Linked DNA regions of Homo sapiens: region 2 is linked to region 1. A link means that fine-mapping ties the variant in region 1 to the expression of a gene that starts in the linked region. Tissue or cell type: thyroid. Region 1 holds a variant in brackets; the other region holds the start of a gene. All regions are shown on one strand. Distances are from middle to middle.

Region 1 (8,259 bases):
AGACCCCATCTCAAAACAATTTAAAAAATAAAGAATAAGTGAACACACCATGTCTCCCAACCAGGAAAAAAGAAACCAAAAATAAGAAGATCATCCTATCTAGTTCTGGCCCCCCAAAACAAATGAAATCTTGAGCCTTTCCCTTAGTTGGCTAACTTCATAACAAAACAATTTTTATCTCTGACTTGGGCAATGCTGATATCTAAAAATTTGTCACGACTTTTATGGGTGTGATAATATGTGAGAAAATTGCTATTTTCCGCCATGAATGGACTCAAAACAAACTCAGTGACCTTGGAAGGTTTGTCGTGCTTTTTTCCTTAAATTCCTGTTGTGTTTTATTTGATAAACCAGAGTCTTTATGAATTCTGACTCTCTTGAGCTTCTTTACAAGTAAGCTCTTTCTTTTTTTCTAAATGCTATTGTCTCTGAGCCTTACTTTCACATTAAGTAATACACAGAACTATTGAGCAGGACAGAGAAACAGATTCAAGGTTAAGTTTCCATAAGGAACATCTAAAACTTTGTCAAAGAACCAGTCTGAAGTGGAGTCATGTGGCTGGCCCTGGCGTGCACTGAATGTCTGGCTCTCAGCAAAACAGCACAAACAGGAGGTTCCCAGGACGGGGAATACATCCCCCTGGAAATCAGACCCCTGCAGGCGTCAGGCAGGTGGGTGACTGCACCAAGACCCAGCACAGCCTTTGAATCCCTGTGGATGTGGATTGGAATCTTGTCTCTACCATTCATGTTACCTTAGGTAAGTCTCTTAGCCTTTCTGAGCCTCAGTTTCCTCCTCTGTACAATGGGAATAATTAGAATCCACTTCTTTGATCTACTTAGGTTTAAAGGGCCAGAAGCAAAAAAAGGCCCTCAACACACAGAACTTTGCTTCCTATCCTGAGCTTAGAGGAACCAATGTTGGGCTGGGGTCCAGGGATGGGCCACTACCCCTAAGAAGGGGCAGTTAGAAAGGATGAGGAGGGAAACAGGGCCTCATAGCGACTGAAAGAAGTAGAGCTGGGAATGGACCCAGCTGTTAGAAGTGGGAACCCTGGCCAGGCGCGGTGGCTCACGCCTGTGATCCCAGCACTTTGGGAGGCCGAGGCGGGTGGATCACCTGAGGTCAGGAGTTCAAGACCAGCCTGGCCAACATGGTGAAACCCTGTCTCTACTAAAAATACAAAAATTAGCTGGATGTGCTGACAGCCACCTGTAATCCCAGCTGCTCCGGAGGCTGAGGCAGCAGAATCGCTTGAACCCAGGAGGTGGAGGTTGCAGTGAGCCGAGATCATGCCACTGCACTCCAGCCTGGGCGACAAGAGCGAAACACTGTCTCAAAAAAGAAAAGAAGAGAAGAGAAGAGAAGAGAAGAGAAGAGAAGAGAAGAGAAGAGAAGAGAAGAGAAGAGAAGAGAAGAGAAAAGAAACGAAACGAAAAGAAAAGAAAAGAAAAGAAAAGGGAATCCCAGCAGTTGGGGGAAGGAGAGGAGAGGCTGGGGCTCTAGATGGAGGCCGAGGCCTGGTTAGCATAACTCAACCCTAGCATCAGCGGCTGACGGGCTGACAGTAGGACTTGATGCTGAGCCCAGAAGGGGAGGCTAGAACTCTTCCACATCTCCAACCTCAAGTGAGGCTTGATCCTGCACCTGGGCTCTGGCCAAGCCTACTTCCGGGCCTGATGGCCCCTGCTGTGAAAAGAGGAGGGTCTCACAGTGTTGCTGCCGAGGAAGAAAGGGCTGCCTAGGGGTGAGGGGTGAAGCCTCCCTGGGCTACATCCCTGACTCCCACTTCTGTCCGTGGTGAATGGGGATGTGGCTGTTTCCAAACTCAGCTACATTTATTATCTCTGAGCCCTGCTCCCTGAGCAGCTTTTACGTAAAGCACGACGTGACTCTGCAAATGGACAACCTTGGCCACGCCAGTGGAAGAAGTCAAGTTGCCTTTTAGTTCCAGCCTTCGCATGCACTGCCACTCCCTCTCTTCATAGCCATACTGTAGTGTGTCCTCTTTGCACCCAATGGCCCATCTTCCTGCCATTCAGCAGATGTGAGGGGCAAAAGAGGGCAGGTGTGGCAAGGCATTGCCAAGCACAAGCATGGGCCAGCGTGTATCCTCTTCCCTAATCCCTGGCTGGCCCCCTAGACCAGAGGCCTCCTTAAGGGAAAAATCACCAACATGGCCCCTGAATGGCTGCAAACTCTGAGCCAGCTCCACCCTCCCCAGCCCCAAACCCATGGCTTCAGAAGTCAGCCTTGCCTTCTGGGCCTCAAGAATATCAAAGCCACATAGCTCTTGCATGGAGGCTTGGCTTGACCTTATGGGCTTACAAAAAGCTTCCATGTTTCCAATCTTATTAAATCCTCACAGCAACCCTGATAGGTAGGCCAAGCAATAATTAACCACTGCATTGCTCAGCCAGGAAGCTAAAGCTCAGAGAGGGCAGGTGGCTTGTGCATTGCTCAGCCAGGGAGCTAAAGCTCAGAGAGGGCAGGTGACTTGCACAAGGTCACAAAGCTAGTAAGTACCAGAAGCGAAATAAACATCCAAGTCTCTGGCCTCAAGGATCACACTTTCTGTTCTCTGCTTCAGCCATGCCTTTCTAGGGGTAAGCTTCCCATCAGTCAGATGGGCAAGCTGAAAGTGTGGAGGGTCTTTCTCGGGAACTGGCATCTAGAGGGTTGCCCAAAGCCCAAGGTCAGGTCATGTGCAGATTTGTCGTCAGTGCTTTGGGCAACATGAACCACAGACCTAAAACAGTAGCCAAAATCCTTCCCCATCACAAAAAGGAGACACAGAACATCAGGCAAAGGCTTCTTTCAGTTCTCCCTCCACTTAAGCAGCGAAAAGGACACCGTGCTCCCCACCAGGCCCTCAGGTAGAGTCCAGGTTCTGCCACGTAAGTCATGTGGCTTTGGGTAAAGCAGCTCAACTCCCTGAACTCAATGTCTTCATCTTTAAAGTGGGAATGATACCTCCATCCCCAATCTCGACACAGCCCAGCTCCCTGCTTCAGACCTGGGGACTGTGGATTCTCACCGTTCCCTCTCAGGCTCCCCTGAGAAAGAGAAGGCTCACATGGCATCCCCTCCCTCCCTTCCTGATCCCCAACCTCCACCTCCCAGCCCCAGATCAAACCCAGTTTACCAGGAGCCAAAACAAGGAGCTCAGTGCAATGGAAAAATCAGCCCAAGCAATTGTCTGACCAAATTGACTTGTCAGTCACCCTGCCCAGACAGGGCCTGGGAGAATCACCTGATCTGCACACAGGAAAGAATGATTTGTAAGCGTTGAGGCCAGGAGGAAAAACACCCAGGAAAGCCCCGACACAGAGACAACAACTCAGTCTGGGTTTCCATAGCAATCCCAGGAGGAACAGGAGGAGCTCATGCCAGGATCATTCAAGAGATGGCAGCCAGCAATCACCTTGCTCCGCCATCCACCGCTGAGCCATCTGCCCCAC[G/A]TCACTGAAGCAACAGGTTCCCTCTGCAAAGCCACCAACCCACGTGCCCAATCATCCAGCCCCAGAAAAATTTGAGATCTCCCCACCCTCTCTCCAGAGTCTGCTATGGTTTGGGAGAGGAACCCTAAAGCCATGTCCATACAATAATACATGGAAAATATGTGCAATCTTTTTTTGTTGTTGTTGTTGAGACGGAGTGTTGCTCTGTCACCCAGGCTGGAGTGCAGTGGCACGATCTTGGCTCACTGCAAGCTCCACCTCCTGGGTTCACACCATTCTCCTGCCTCAGCCTCCTGAGTAGCTGGGACTACAGGTGCCCGCCACCACGCCTGGCTAATTTTTTTGTATTTTTAGTAGAAACGGGGTTTCACCTTGTTAGCCAGGATGGCCTCGATCTCCTGACCTCATGATCCGTCCGCCTTGGCCTCCCAAAGTGCTGGGATTACAGGCATGAGCCACCACGCCTGGCCAATATGTGTAATCTTAAGTAAAAACATTACATCTACATATTTGTTCTGAGAGTCTAAGAAGAAAGAGCTCAAGACAGCAGAGCTTGCCCCCCTAAAGACTAGCATGTTTTTATGGCAGACACACACCTCAAAATCAGGACCGTGAAAAGTGAGTTACAAATAACTCACTTTTCTTCCTCTGAGAAGTATTAACTACCTCTGAGATTTCAGCATTTAAAACGGTTCTTTTCCTTATGCACTTTGACTTGATCTGTCTGTAGCATTTCTTATTTGGCAATAGGTATTTCCTACACCACCTGCTCTGGAAATAATACGAAATATACTCCAGGTGTGGCAAAGTCCCTCTGTTCTGTTCCAAGTGTGTTTTTGATTGCTCGTGGTACAGGCTGAGGGAGGGAAGTTTGCTAAAAATTTGGGAAATTCAGTAACTGTCGCTGCCTCCTGCACCCGCGGTTGGGGTCTTCTCTACACCTTCTCTTCCACCCTTGCTTCTTTCCAGCTTCTATCCCTTCCTTTGGTGACCCATTGGGTCCTTCTGTTTTGTTAAGATGCTCCCGCTGGGTGCCAGCACAGGCTCTCCCCAACTCCATCCTTGCTGAGTCACAAAGTAGAAGGTGTGTATGGGAGAAACTGGGTGTGGGGTATACGGGAACTCTCTGTAATATTCTTGCAACTTTCCTATACATCTAAAACTATTCTAAACTGAAACAGTTATTTTAAAATAAAATAACCAACCAAAGAGGAGGGTGCGGGCTCTGCTCCCAGGAGCGAGGAGAAAGCGTGGCCTGGAATCCTCATTCAGAGTTTACGTAAGGCCCAAAGACACCACATCAGAGCAAGTCATAATGTTTCCCACATGAGAAAAGGTTATTCCTCCTGTTAAGACAACATTGACCTTGTCCTTTAAGAGAAACTATTCCAGCACATTGTTGTGCTAAGAAACATTTGACTCTGCATTCCCACTGTGAATGACACCCTCTCTGAGGGCATGGCACCAACTCTGACTGGCGTGTTTGTTTCAAATCTCTCTCTCTCTCTTTCTCTCTCTCTCTCTCTCTCTCTCTCTCTCTCTCACACACACACAAACACACACCCCTACTCATTATAATGGAGGGGGCAATGCATCTTGCCACATCATAAAAATTGAACTTGCATGGGGTTAATAATTATTTGAATAGTGTTACATCATAGTGTGTTATTATAATTGTTTGAATGTCTTGGATATAACAGAAGTGGAGGACCTATCACCTCGCTGAACCTGCACAACCTCTCCCTGAGGCAGGCATTGTGACCTCCATTTCACAGCTTGGGAAGCTCATTCAAAGAGGAAGGCCGTTTGCCCAAGCTGTGAGGTTAGTCCATGGTGGAGCTGAGATCCAGCCCCAGGCCTCTCTGCCTCCAGGGCCAAGACGGTTCTCCCTTATTCCACAGCTACTCCAGGCACGGTTTTCTCTTTCGACCAAACAAGACCCAAATTTCAGCAGAGACTCCTGAGACGTGCTGAGGATGGGGGAGATTCCCTGTGTCCATCATCCCAGAGCCAACGCTCTTCATTGAACAACTGTTAGAAGGAATCCCATGTGCTCAGATACATTTCACCTGATATTCTAACACAAGACAGCGGGGGCATCTTGTAGATATTGCTGAATTGGGCAGGAGAAAGCTCCTACCTGAAGTAATGTAACCAAAAGCCTTGCCTGGTTGGTAGGAAACACATCCGGGTTCAAGGAAATGCACCTGCCTGTTCTGACCACCAAGTTCTGTGTGGCCCAAGCTTCTCATCATTTAAGCATGAGCTTAAATGTCACCTCTCAGAGAGGCCTGCCCTGAGTCCCTGATCTCATGCATGTCCTCCTGTGAATCTGAATAGCTTCTAGAGCTTTTTCATAATAACAGCTACCATCATTTGTGAATTTATACTTATTGGTGAGCTCATAAGATTTTTTTTTCTTTTGAGATGGAGTCTCACTCTGTCGCCCAGGCTGGAGTGCAATGGCCTGGTCTCGGCTCACTGCAACCTCTGCCTCCCGAGTTCAAGCGATTCTCCTCCCTCAGCCTCCCGAGAAGCTGGGATTACAGGCATGCACCACCACACCTGGCTAATTTTTGTATTTTTAGTAGAGAGGAGGTTTCACCATGTTGGCCAGTCTAATCTCGAACTCCTGACCTCAGGTGATCCACCCACCTCAGCCTCCCAAAGTGCTGGGATTACAGGCATGAGCTACCATGCCCAGCCATATGCTCATAAGATTTAATGTCCTGTCCCCCCATTAGGAAAATGGACTCAGAACCTGTCTTGTTCATCCCTGTATTCGCAGGCATCCTTCTTTCCCAAAGTAAGCGCTCAATAAATATTTCAAGAAAGGCAGTTTAGAAAGCTGCCTTTCTAACACACAGAGGGTGTTCCTAATGCTTTTAACACAATGGAAGAGCAACGTACTTGAGCATGAGAGAGTCTGGAGATGGACAAAGGACAGAGAATGGAACACTGCTGCCCAGTGAGGTGGAAGCTACCCTGCAGTGCTCTGGACACTGACGTGGAGGGGAGCTGTCACGGTGACGAGGACCTTCACCTCGGGGGGAACTCACCCTCCAGGATGCCAAATCTGATAAGTCCTTTAGAGGCCTCCAATCAGATTCTGACCACACGCCACCCCTTCCAGTAACCTTGCAGACTCCAGGGACAATCATCTGCTCCTGGGGTCACTCTGTTCATTTTCCATAGCTGCTGCAACAAGTTATCACAGATTAAGTGGCTTAAAACTACACAAACTTATTAGCTTATGGTTCTGTAGGTCAGAAATTTGACATAAGTCTCACTGGGCTAAAATCAAGGACAGGACTATGGACAGGACTATGTTCCTCCTGGAGGCTGCAGGGGAGAATCCATGTCTTTGCCTCTTCTAGCTTCTAAAGGGTACCTGCATTCCCTGGCTCACGGCCCCTTCCACTACCTACAAAGCCAGCAGAGGCTGGTAGAGTCTTTCTCACAACCCATCGCTCCAACCTTCTCTTCTACCTCCCCTTTCTGTTTTTAAGGGCCCTTGGGATTGCATTGGTTTCACCAAGAACAATCCAGAATAATTTCTTCTTCTTAAGTCATCTGATTAGCAACCTTAATTCCACTTGCAACCTTAATTCCCCTTTGCTGTGTAAGCTAACAGATTCAGAGGTTCTGGGGATTAGGTTGTGGACATCTTGGGAGGGACATTATTCTCCCTGCCATAGTCAAAAATTTTGATGGCCACCACTGTCTCTAAAACCCAATGGGCTCCTGTGTACTGTGCTAACATGATGGAGAGGCCGTTTCCCTACTCACTGGCCTGACTAGAGCCCTGGCTTTCTTGGAAGCTGCCTGGGTGGCTCCCTGTGCTTTTCTAGAAACCTCCCAGGGTCCTGAGCAACCCCCTGTGTTTACTGCAATGCTGTGGTCAGCCCAGTAGCACACATCCTTGTATTTGCTTTGACTCCTTTTCTGCTTCACTTTCCCTTTTTCTCAGACATGATTCCTGGGACTTGCACCATCTTCCCCTAAATAAACCATCAGCAAGGAAACTTTTGTCTCAGGTTCTGTTCTCTAGGAAATGCAGACAACCACTGTCAAGTGTGACCCTAGAAAGCTGGAGCTCAAGAAGGGACTGTGGAGTTGGGTTGACCACACCACTTGAGTAGTAGGCACCGGTGGCTGGGGTAAAAGGGCAGTGGTAACCTTTGGCACATAATGACATCAATGCATTCACCTGTGTTTACGAGGATGAGTTTGGTGAGGAAGGTGACGTAGTAGAAGATCCACTCAGCCCTACCTATCCAACCTGGGTCTCTGCTATGTGTCTCATGTCCTAGCCAGGGCAGACCCAGTGACATCTCATCCTACTCCTATGGAAAGTCCCAGTGGCTGCTGCTGCCACTACCAACCAAGCTCCCACTCACAGCACCAGTGAATGAAGAGAGCTGGCCACATCAGCACAAGAGCCAGTCTGGGCCTTGGAGGCTCCAGCTTCCCAGAGGCTGCCTAGAGTTGCCCCCTCATGGTGTTTGGGGATTAATACCCATGGTTTTGATCCACGGGGAGACAGAGATCCATGGTTGATCCATCAGTGAGAAAGAGATTATGGGAAAGGTACAGTAAACACCTACCTTGCCCTTCCTCCCTCCCCATATACTGTTCTGAAGAGCAGGAGTCTCATACAGCCTTTCTGGAAGCGTTTCACAAGCTCAACACATCCTCTTGTATGTGCTCTCTCTCCTTTCTCCTTCCCTTGCTTTTATGTTGCCTCATTCTTCCTTCCCTGGAATTACACCATTCAACAAAGCATTGGATGTAAGT
Region 2 (8,000 bases), 550 kb after region 1:
TGCAGTGGCGCCATCTCGGCTCACTGTAACCTCCGCCTCCCGGGTTAAAGCTGTTGTCCCGCCTCAGCCTCCCGAGTAGCTGGGATTACAGGCGCCCCCCACCACGCCAGGCTAATTTTGTATTTTTAGTAGAGAGAGGGTTTCACCATGTTGGCCAGGCTGGTCTTGAACTCCTGACCTCAGGTGATCCACTGGCCTCGGCCTCGCAAAGTGCTGGAATTACAGGCACGACCCACCACATCCGGCCCTCTGTTCCTTGTTTCGAAATAACTCAATTAAAAGTCAGAGGCTCACTGGCCACATCTCCTTCCACCCACCCACCGCCCCACCCCCCAAAAGATGCCTCTAGCAAATAAAATGAGACGTCCTGATGCCTTCCTGGCTCGTTCCAGAATTTTTAGCTTTGACTTTTGACGTGGGGTCCTTCTACCTAAAGTCCCCGCCGTCACATCAGCCCCCAGTTTTCCTCTGTCTTAGCTCGGGCTGCCGTAACAAAATACCATAGACTGGATGCCAGACAACAGAAATTTATTTTCTCAGTTTTGGAGGCTGCAAGGCTGTGACCAGGGCCCAACATGGTCAGGTTCTGGTGAGAGCTCCCTGGCTGCCTTCTCACAGGGTCCTCACATGGCAGAGAGAGAGGGACCCAAAGCCCTCTGGTGTCTTTTTTGTTTGTTTGTTATTTTTTGGGACGGAGTCTCACACTGCTGCCAGGCTGGAGTGCAGTGGCCCGATCTCGGCTCACTGCAACCTCCACCTCCCAGGTTCAAGTAATTCTCCAGCCCCAGCCTCCCAATTAGCTGGGATTACAGGCACCCACCACCACACCCGGCTAATTTTTGTATTTTTAGTAGAGAGGGGCTTTCACCATGCTGGCCAGGCTGGTCTCGAACTCCTGAGCCCAGCTGATCCACCCGCCTCGGTTTCCCAAAGTGCTGGGATTACAGGCGTGAGCCACTGCGCCTGGCCAGAACTCAGTCCTTACAGAACATCAGAGAATCCATACAAGGTGAGAGAGAGGCCTTATAAATGCATTGGGTGTGGGAAAGATTTGAAGGGGAGCTCACAACTTATTCAGCATCAAAGAATTCACAGTGGAAAGAAACTTTGTGAATGCAATGAATGTTCAAAGACTTGTAATCAGAGCTCACACTTTATTCGACATCATAGAATTCATAGTGGAGAAAAGCCCTATGAATGTGACAAGCATGGGAAAGCCTTCAGATGGAGCTCAGACCTTGTGAGGCATCTGGAAATTCATATTGGAGATAAAGTTTTGGAATGTAGCGAGCGTGGAAGAATTTTCAATCAGAGCTCAGGTCTAATGCAGCACCAAAGAAACCATACAGAATCATAACCCTAGGAAGACAGTAATGATAAAGATGTCAGTATGTACATATAGGAAGAGAGAAGGAGAGTTTGTTTTTGTCCTAACTATTTGGAAAATTGTAAGCTTCCTAAGAGCAATTTTCATCTGATTCAGTGTATAGTACTTAGTCTCAGGTCATGTGCAGATATGTCCTTCCCAAATGCTTACCACAAGATAAATCAGAAATCTTGACTGGAATAAGCTTCTAGTTCCTTTGCTTTATCATGAGAGGTTCCACACCACAGGAAAATCTTGTAAATGGTGGAAGCTGCATAAAGCACCATCATCATCACAAAATGGTGTCCTTGTGTGTCCTGTTTAGCAGCACCGAGAATCTAATAGCTTTCCCCTTGTCTGTTTTTCCTTACTATGAATTGTGCCAGGGGAACAGTAAAATGGGTATGATATCCTGAACTCTAGGGTGGATGTCTTTCTGGGACAGAATCTAATCCAAAAGTCTGCAAATGGACTTGAGGTTTTCACATTAGTATAAATGTCAATATGTAGTTTAGGGAATTTGCCTTATTCCTCCATTCCTAGCAAAATTAGATACAGAAGCAGCTAATTAAATCAGGAAAAGGAAACTGACAGTAAGTCATAGGACCCATTGTCTTCTCTCATGTAAAAGTAGAAGTTGTGATTCAATCTGTTCTGTAGGATTTAAAAGTATAATGGCACATTGAAGTTTGACATACTGAAATTCAGGCTCTGTCAATTTCATCTCTGTAACCTTTATTGTTTCTGAGTCTTGAGTTTTCTCATCTGTAAAATCAAGATAATGACATTAATACAATCCCTTGTGGAGCAACTGTGAAGACTAAATAAGACAATTTCATTAAGTTCCTGGCATAGTTCTAGACACGTAGTAGACATTCAACAAATGATAACTATTTTTATCCATAGCTCCTACGTGCAGTAATTATCAATGGCACTTTGAAGGAAAAAAGATAATATATCCCCCAGCCATGGGGGTGTCAATGCGCATTTTCAAGGATACTATATCTTGGAGAAACAAATTTAATAATCTGAGAATCTGAGAACTGTTACTATGGTACTACACAGTTGAACAACAATTTTTCTTGGAGAGACTAGGATTAAGCTATTTTATAAAAGTATTGAGAGACTGGATCAATCAATATCCTGCAAAATTGATAGTGAGATAAATTTATTTTTAATTAATTTTTTTTTTGAGACGGAGTCTCACTCTGTCGCCCAGGCTAGAGTGCAGTGGCACAATCTCAGCTTATTGCAACCTCTGCCTCCCGGGTTCAAACGATTCTCCTGCCTCCTGAGTAGTGGGGACTACAGGCGCCCGCCACCACGCCCAGCTAACCTTTTTGTATTTTTAATAGAGACAGGGTTTCACCATGTTGGCCACCATGTCTCAAAAAAAAAATAAAAAATAATCGGCCGGGCGCCTGTAAACCCAGCACTTTGGGAGGCCGAGACGGGCGGATCACGAGGTCAGGAGATCGAGACCATCCTGGCTAATATGGTGAAACGCCGTGTCTCCTACCAAAAAAAAAAAATTAGCCGGGCGTGGTGGCGGGCGCCTCTAGTCCCAGCTACTCAGGAGGCTGAGGCAGGAGAATGGCGTGAACCCGGGAGGCGGAGCTTGCAGTGAGCCAAGATCGCGCCACTGCACTCCAGCCTGGGCGACAGAGCAAGACTCCGTCTCAAATAAATAAATAAAATAAAAAATAACAACAACAAAAAAACACCAACCCCTATTTCCCCCATCGCAATAAAATTAACCTTAGAATTCTTTTTTCTCCTCCCCTCCCCCTACGCCCCAGGAATTGTACAGGCTAGTGGTTGGGGAATATTTTTTCGTGGAAGGGACCGTCTTCCTTAGCTGTGGCCCTCTCATCAGGTCTGGGAAGAGGTAATTGGAAAATAGAACTCATGGAGAAGTGTTACCACAGGCCATGGACAAGGCCAGAATTTCCCTGACATCTGTCCGCCAGCACCGCCCTTCAGGTACAATTCCACAAGAGACCCCCCAAACTTGATGAAGTCACCCGCTTACAAGGGCTCACTCTCCACCTGCGCAAGGACTGCAATTCCCAGGGGCCTCCAGGGCACCCGGCCGCTCCAGTCCAGTCGTGCAGGCGGCGCGCTCTTTCTCGCTCCGCTCAAGTCCAGGAACCGGTTCCCGGGCTCCCAGCCTCTCGGCAGCGCCCACGCGCCTGGGCCAAAGTCCGCGAACGGAAGCCGGCGGCGAGGAGGATTCTGGGAGTTGGAGGCCGAGGCTGCGACCTGCGCAGGCGCAAACCTGCCCCTGGGGTGAGGGCTGTAAGTGGCGCGATTCGCGGCAGCGCCCCGATGGAACCTCCTGGTCCTGTGAGGTGAGTGTTGGCGGCGGCTTCCCCGAGGTCCACCTGGCGGCTTGGCTTTTGCCCGTCCCGCAGGCAGCGGCGGCTCTGCAGTGAGCAGGCCTGGCAGGCAGCTCCGCGGTTGTGTGTGGAGAGGGGTTTGGGTTGCCCGTGGTGCCCGCGCTGCGCTACCTGCGTTGCGTCGCGTCACGTGCCGTGGAGGGGGGTCTTGATGTTCCTCTTCTCTTTTCTCGAGACCCTTGGGTAGGGAGTGAAGGGTGGGAAGGGGAGTTGTACCTGGCCTGGACGACAGCCCCCTCCCCGGGCGGGCACCTGCCCGAGGCCGGGGTAGAGAAGTTTTGCTGGGGCCAGCGGCGCCGGGCATCACCCTGGGAGACGCGAGCTCCGCGTTTTTCCTCGCGCCTCCTTTGTCTTAGGCCAGCGGTCCCCCTTTGTGCTCCTTTCGTGGCCTCTGATGCGTTCCACCTCCTTCCCTGTGTGAAAGGAAAATAAAATCTCAGGACCCCAAACTTACTATGACAAAGGGAAAAGTTAAGCTTGGAAACTGAGTCACGGAAAAAAACTGCTTTTCCTTTTGTTCCTAAACCGATAGCTGCAAGATAGAAAGCAACATATGCCCCCAGGTGGCCTCCCTCACCCTGGCAATGGAAACGAACAGCCGAGCTTCACCGGACAAGACTAGAAATCGTTCCTCCACCCACCCAGAGACAAAGCATATTTGACTTCTTCCTCTACTGTATGTCTACCTTATCTTGTGTAAAATGCAGATTTACTGAGCACGAGACAAATTCATAATTGACTTCCTCTTTTCACGTGCAACATGTGGATTCAGTGAGCTCTAATCAAATCCTCACAAGAATGTGGCCACTTACCTCACCACATACCCTCCCTCTTCTCTCCTCCTTCCCCTCCTGCCAGCTTTCTCCCCATTAAATTGAAGCCCTCAAAACCCTCTTTGGTAAAAGTGCGAGCCACGGATCCTACTGTGGCTTGTGTGTCTTTTTCCTGGGTGCATCCTCAACCTTAGCAAAATAACCCCTAAATTGGTTGAGACCTATCTCAGATGCTTTTTTGGTTTACACCTGTTAGATTTCCTTGACGCAGGCCACTGTACCCGAGACTTGTTCATAGCTGCCCCTTAATAGGGCTTTGGCATTTGAATGAGATCCAGCTCCTTAAAGGGGACTTATATTTTTCTTTTGCTGTAGCTACTACTTCAGAAATTTTTGAAAGCAGGGAGGAGCCATCTCAGAGGAGGCTGCCTCCCCAACACATTCCACCTTGCACTGAAAGCTGCTCGGCTCTGGGCTCTGCATCTGGAAACTTGGGTTTTGCTTCAAACTTATTTCTTCCAATAGTCATTTCTTCCCATAGGCCCCCAGAACTTTTTTTTTCTTGATACATTTTTCCTGTCAATGGCATTTAATTAGTTGTATTATAGAAAACCACTTTACATCCCCGTTTCTACCACGGTGCAAGTTTCTCAAAAACATTGACTTAGTGCAGCAGAATTCTGGGGAGGGGTGGAAGAAAAAGCGGGACTACAGGGCATAGGACAGGGTTTGGCTCTTTGGAGTGTTGAGTATATGTATATGTTTAATGAATGAAAAAAGAAGAGGAGGACGGGCGCGGTGGCTCATGCCTGTAATCCTACCACTTTGGGAGGCCGAGGTGGGTGGGTCACCTGAGGTCAGGAGTTCAAGACCAGCCTGGCCAATATGGCAAAACCCCGTCCCTACTAAAAATACAAAAAAATTAGCTGGATGTGGTGGCAGGCGCCTGTAATCCCAGCTACTTGGGAGGCTGAGGTAGGAGAATCGCTAGAACCCCGGGGGTGGAGGTTGCAGTGAGCTGAGATCATGTCACTGCACTCCAGCCTGGGTAACAGAGAAAGACTCTGTCTTAAAAAAAAAAAAGAGGAATGATTTCTTCTTATGTTACAGGGGGCCCTTGCAAGATTCCAGCTGGTATGAGCCTTCTGCAGAGCTAGTGCAGACTAGGATGGCTGTATCACTAACAGCAGCTGAAACTCTGGCCCTTCAGGGTACACAGGGACAAGAGAAGATGATGATGATGGGACCAAAGGAAGAGGAACAGTCTTGTGAGTATGAGACCAGGCTACCTGGGAACCACTCTACCAGTCAAGAGATCTTCCGCCAACGCTTCAGGCATCTCCGCTACCAGGAGACTCCTGGTCCCCGGGAGGCCTTGAGCCAACTACGAGTACTCTGCTGTGAGTGGCTGAGGCCAGAGAAACACACGAAGGAGCAGATCCTGGAGTTCCTGGTGCTGGAACAATTCTTGACCATCCTGCCTGAGGAGCTCCAATCCTGGGTGCGGGGACATCACCCTAAGAGTGGAGAGGAGGCTGTGACTGTGCTGGAGGATTTAGAGAAAGGACTTGAACCAGAGCCGCAGGTGGGAAGGGGGATTTGGTCTGTTATGGGAGCCAGATTGATGACCTTCAGGCTGGACCGAGGGGCAGCTGTAGGGGGAGGTGCCAAGTTCAAACCTCTCTTGGGCCAGGTAGAGCAGTTAGTATGTGTTTCTGTGTCTGTCTTTTCTGCCCTCGAGCCCTGAATGAGAAAGAGACTCTAGCTCCTCTTCTTCCCTTGTGCTGACTCTGAGGAGGCTCTCTAAAGTCTCCTTGGAAGCTTTGGTCCAAGGAGGGTCACATCTGCAAGTGTCCAGGCAGGGGACAGAAACCACACTAGTAATTTGAAGAAAATTTAAACTGAGTGGTGCCTGATCACCTCCAGGTCCCAGGCCCTGCACATGGACCTGCACAGGAAGAGCCATGGGAGAAGAAGGAATCTCTGGGAGCAGCCCAGGAAGCACTGAGCATCCAGCTCCAGCCTAAGGAGACCCAGCCTTTCCCAAAGAGTGGTGAGGAGCAGGATTCTGTGGGGAGGGAGAGGAGAAAGAGGGACTATAAAGGGCACAGTACCTAGTACCTGTAAAGGGTAAATAGTAGTAGGTGCTTAAATGTTTGGTATCATCACAGCCTTACTATTCTTATCTCTTAGGTGAGAGACTTTGCCTGTTTCATCACTCATAAAATTAGGAGTAAGAATAAACTACCTCATAAGATAGCTCTGAGGATTAAGCTCAACTTGGGTCTTATCTGGATATAAAGCCTGGCCAGCATCTCTTAACTTTAGAGAGCCCTAAATCAGGACCAGGAAATAGCTCATTCATTTATGCCTTATCATCTCCACTGCACTTAACTCCTAGTCTATAATAACTCTGCCCTGAGCTAGAGGCCAGCCTTGAGATCCTTTTTTTTTTTTTAAACTCGCTGAGGCCTCGCAAAACACTTTTTAAGCCATAAAGCACTCCTATGTGAGATACAGCCTGTCATCACCTTTACCACCTCTTCCTCATGTAAACAGCCCTATCTGAAACTCTCTTATGTGTGCCCTCACCTTCTACCCTTCAGATTCACTACAGAAACTTCCTTCTTGGCCTGCATACATACCTGCAAACAACCTCTCCTCTCTCCCAGCGGCGAACACTAGACTTAGAGCCTCAGGGGCGTGAACTCTCCTTGTTGACCTCTGTAGCCTTGTGACCGTATTGTGAATATGCGGCTAACCAAGAAGAGTCTACTTGATATTTGCTTTTACACCATAACTGCCCCCCCATCACTATCACCAAACCAAGGCATTTGAAAAATCAAATTCTTCTTAGTTACAAAATGGGAAAAAATAGAAATGGAGATTAATTAGACTCTGTCCCAAAAGTATGTTTCTACTTCTTAGCTCTTCTTTCTTCCTTGACTTTTTTCCAGACTTTTTCTTGTCTCCTTTACTTCTGTTTAGTAAGCCTCTATTCATTTATCAATTTTATTACTTTACTCTCAAAAAGAAGCTAGCTATTGTGTGATTTTTTTTTTATATATAGCAAGCATATTTCAGATTTTTTTAACCACAGCATTTAACCTGAAAAAATGAATTTTTAAAAAATCAAATGATCTTGGCTGGGCACGGTGGCTCACGCCTATAATCCCAGCACTTTGGGAGGCTAAGGCAGGTGGATCACTTGGGTCAGGAGTTCAAGACCAGCCTGGCCAACATGGTGAAACCCTGTCTCTACTAAAAATTCAAAAATTAGCCAGGTGTGATACGCGCCTGTAATCCCAGCTACTGGGGAGGCTGAGGCACGAGAATCACTTGAACCAGGGAAGCAGAGGTTGCAGTGAGCCAAGATCATGCCACTACACTCCAGCCTGGGCAACAGAGCAAGACTCTGTCAAAAAAAAAAAAAAAGTCAAATGACCTTGAGTTATCTTAAAG

Evidence for each region. PIP is the estimated chance that this variant, and not a neighbour inherited with it, causes the effect.
Region 2: it holds the start of ZNF232, and the variant in region 1 is fine-mapped to the expression of ZNF232 in thyroid (GTEx, PIP above 0.99). The same link has a PIP of 0.9 or more in aorta, coronary artery, esophagus muscle, left ventricle, lung and prostate.

Annotation. Positions count from the first base shown.
Region 1 is chr17:5,652,556-5,660,814 of GRCh38, reverse strand. No RefSeq gene overlaps it. Among named protein-coding and RNA genes, the nearest start is that of NLRP1, 72 kb to the right of the region's middle. The variant G/A (reference allele first, on the strand shown) is at 3,463.
Region 2 is chr17:5,107,517-5,115,516 of GRCh38, reverse strand. It overlaps ZNF232 (zinc finger protein 232), which reads left to right and starts at 3,639. Exons shown (of 4, transcript NM_014519.6): 1 at 3,639-3,717; 2 at 5,649-6,123; 3 at 6,465-6,591. The coding sequence starts at 3,695. It overlaps ZNF232-AS1 (ZNF232 antisense RNA 1), which reads right to left and starts at 3,582. Exons shown (of 3, transcript NR_135658.1): 1 at 3,416-3,582; 2 at 2,065-2,131; 3 at 1,135-1,359. RefSeq lists an enhancer at 3,279-3,328.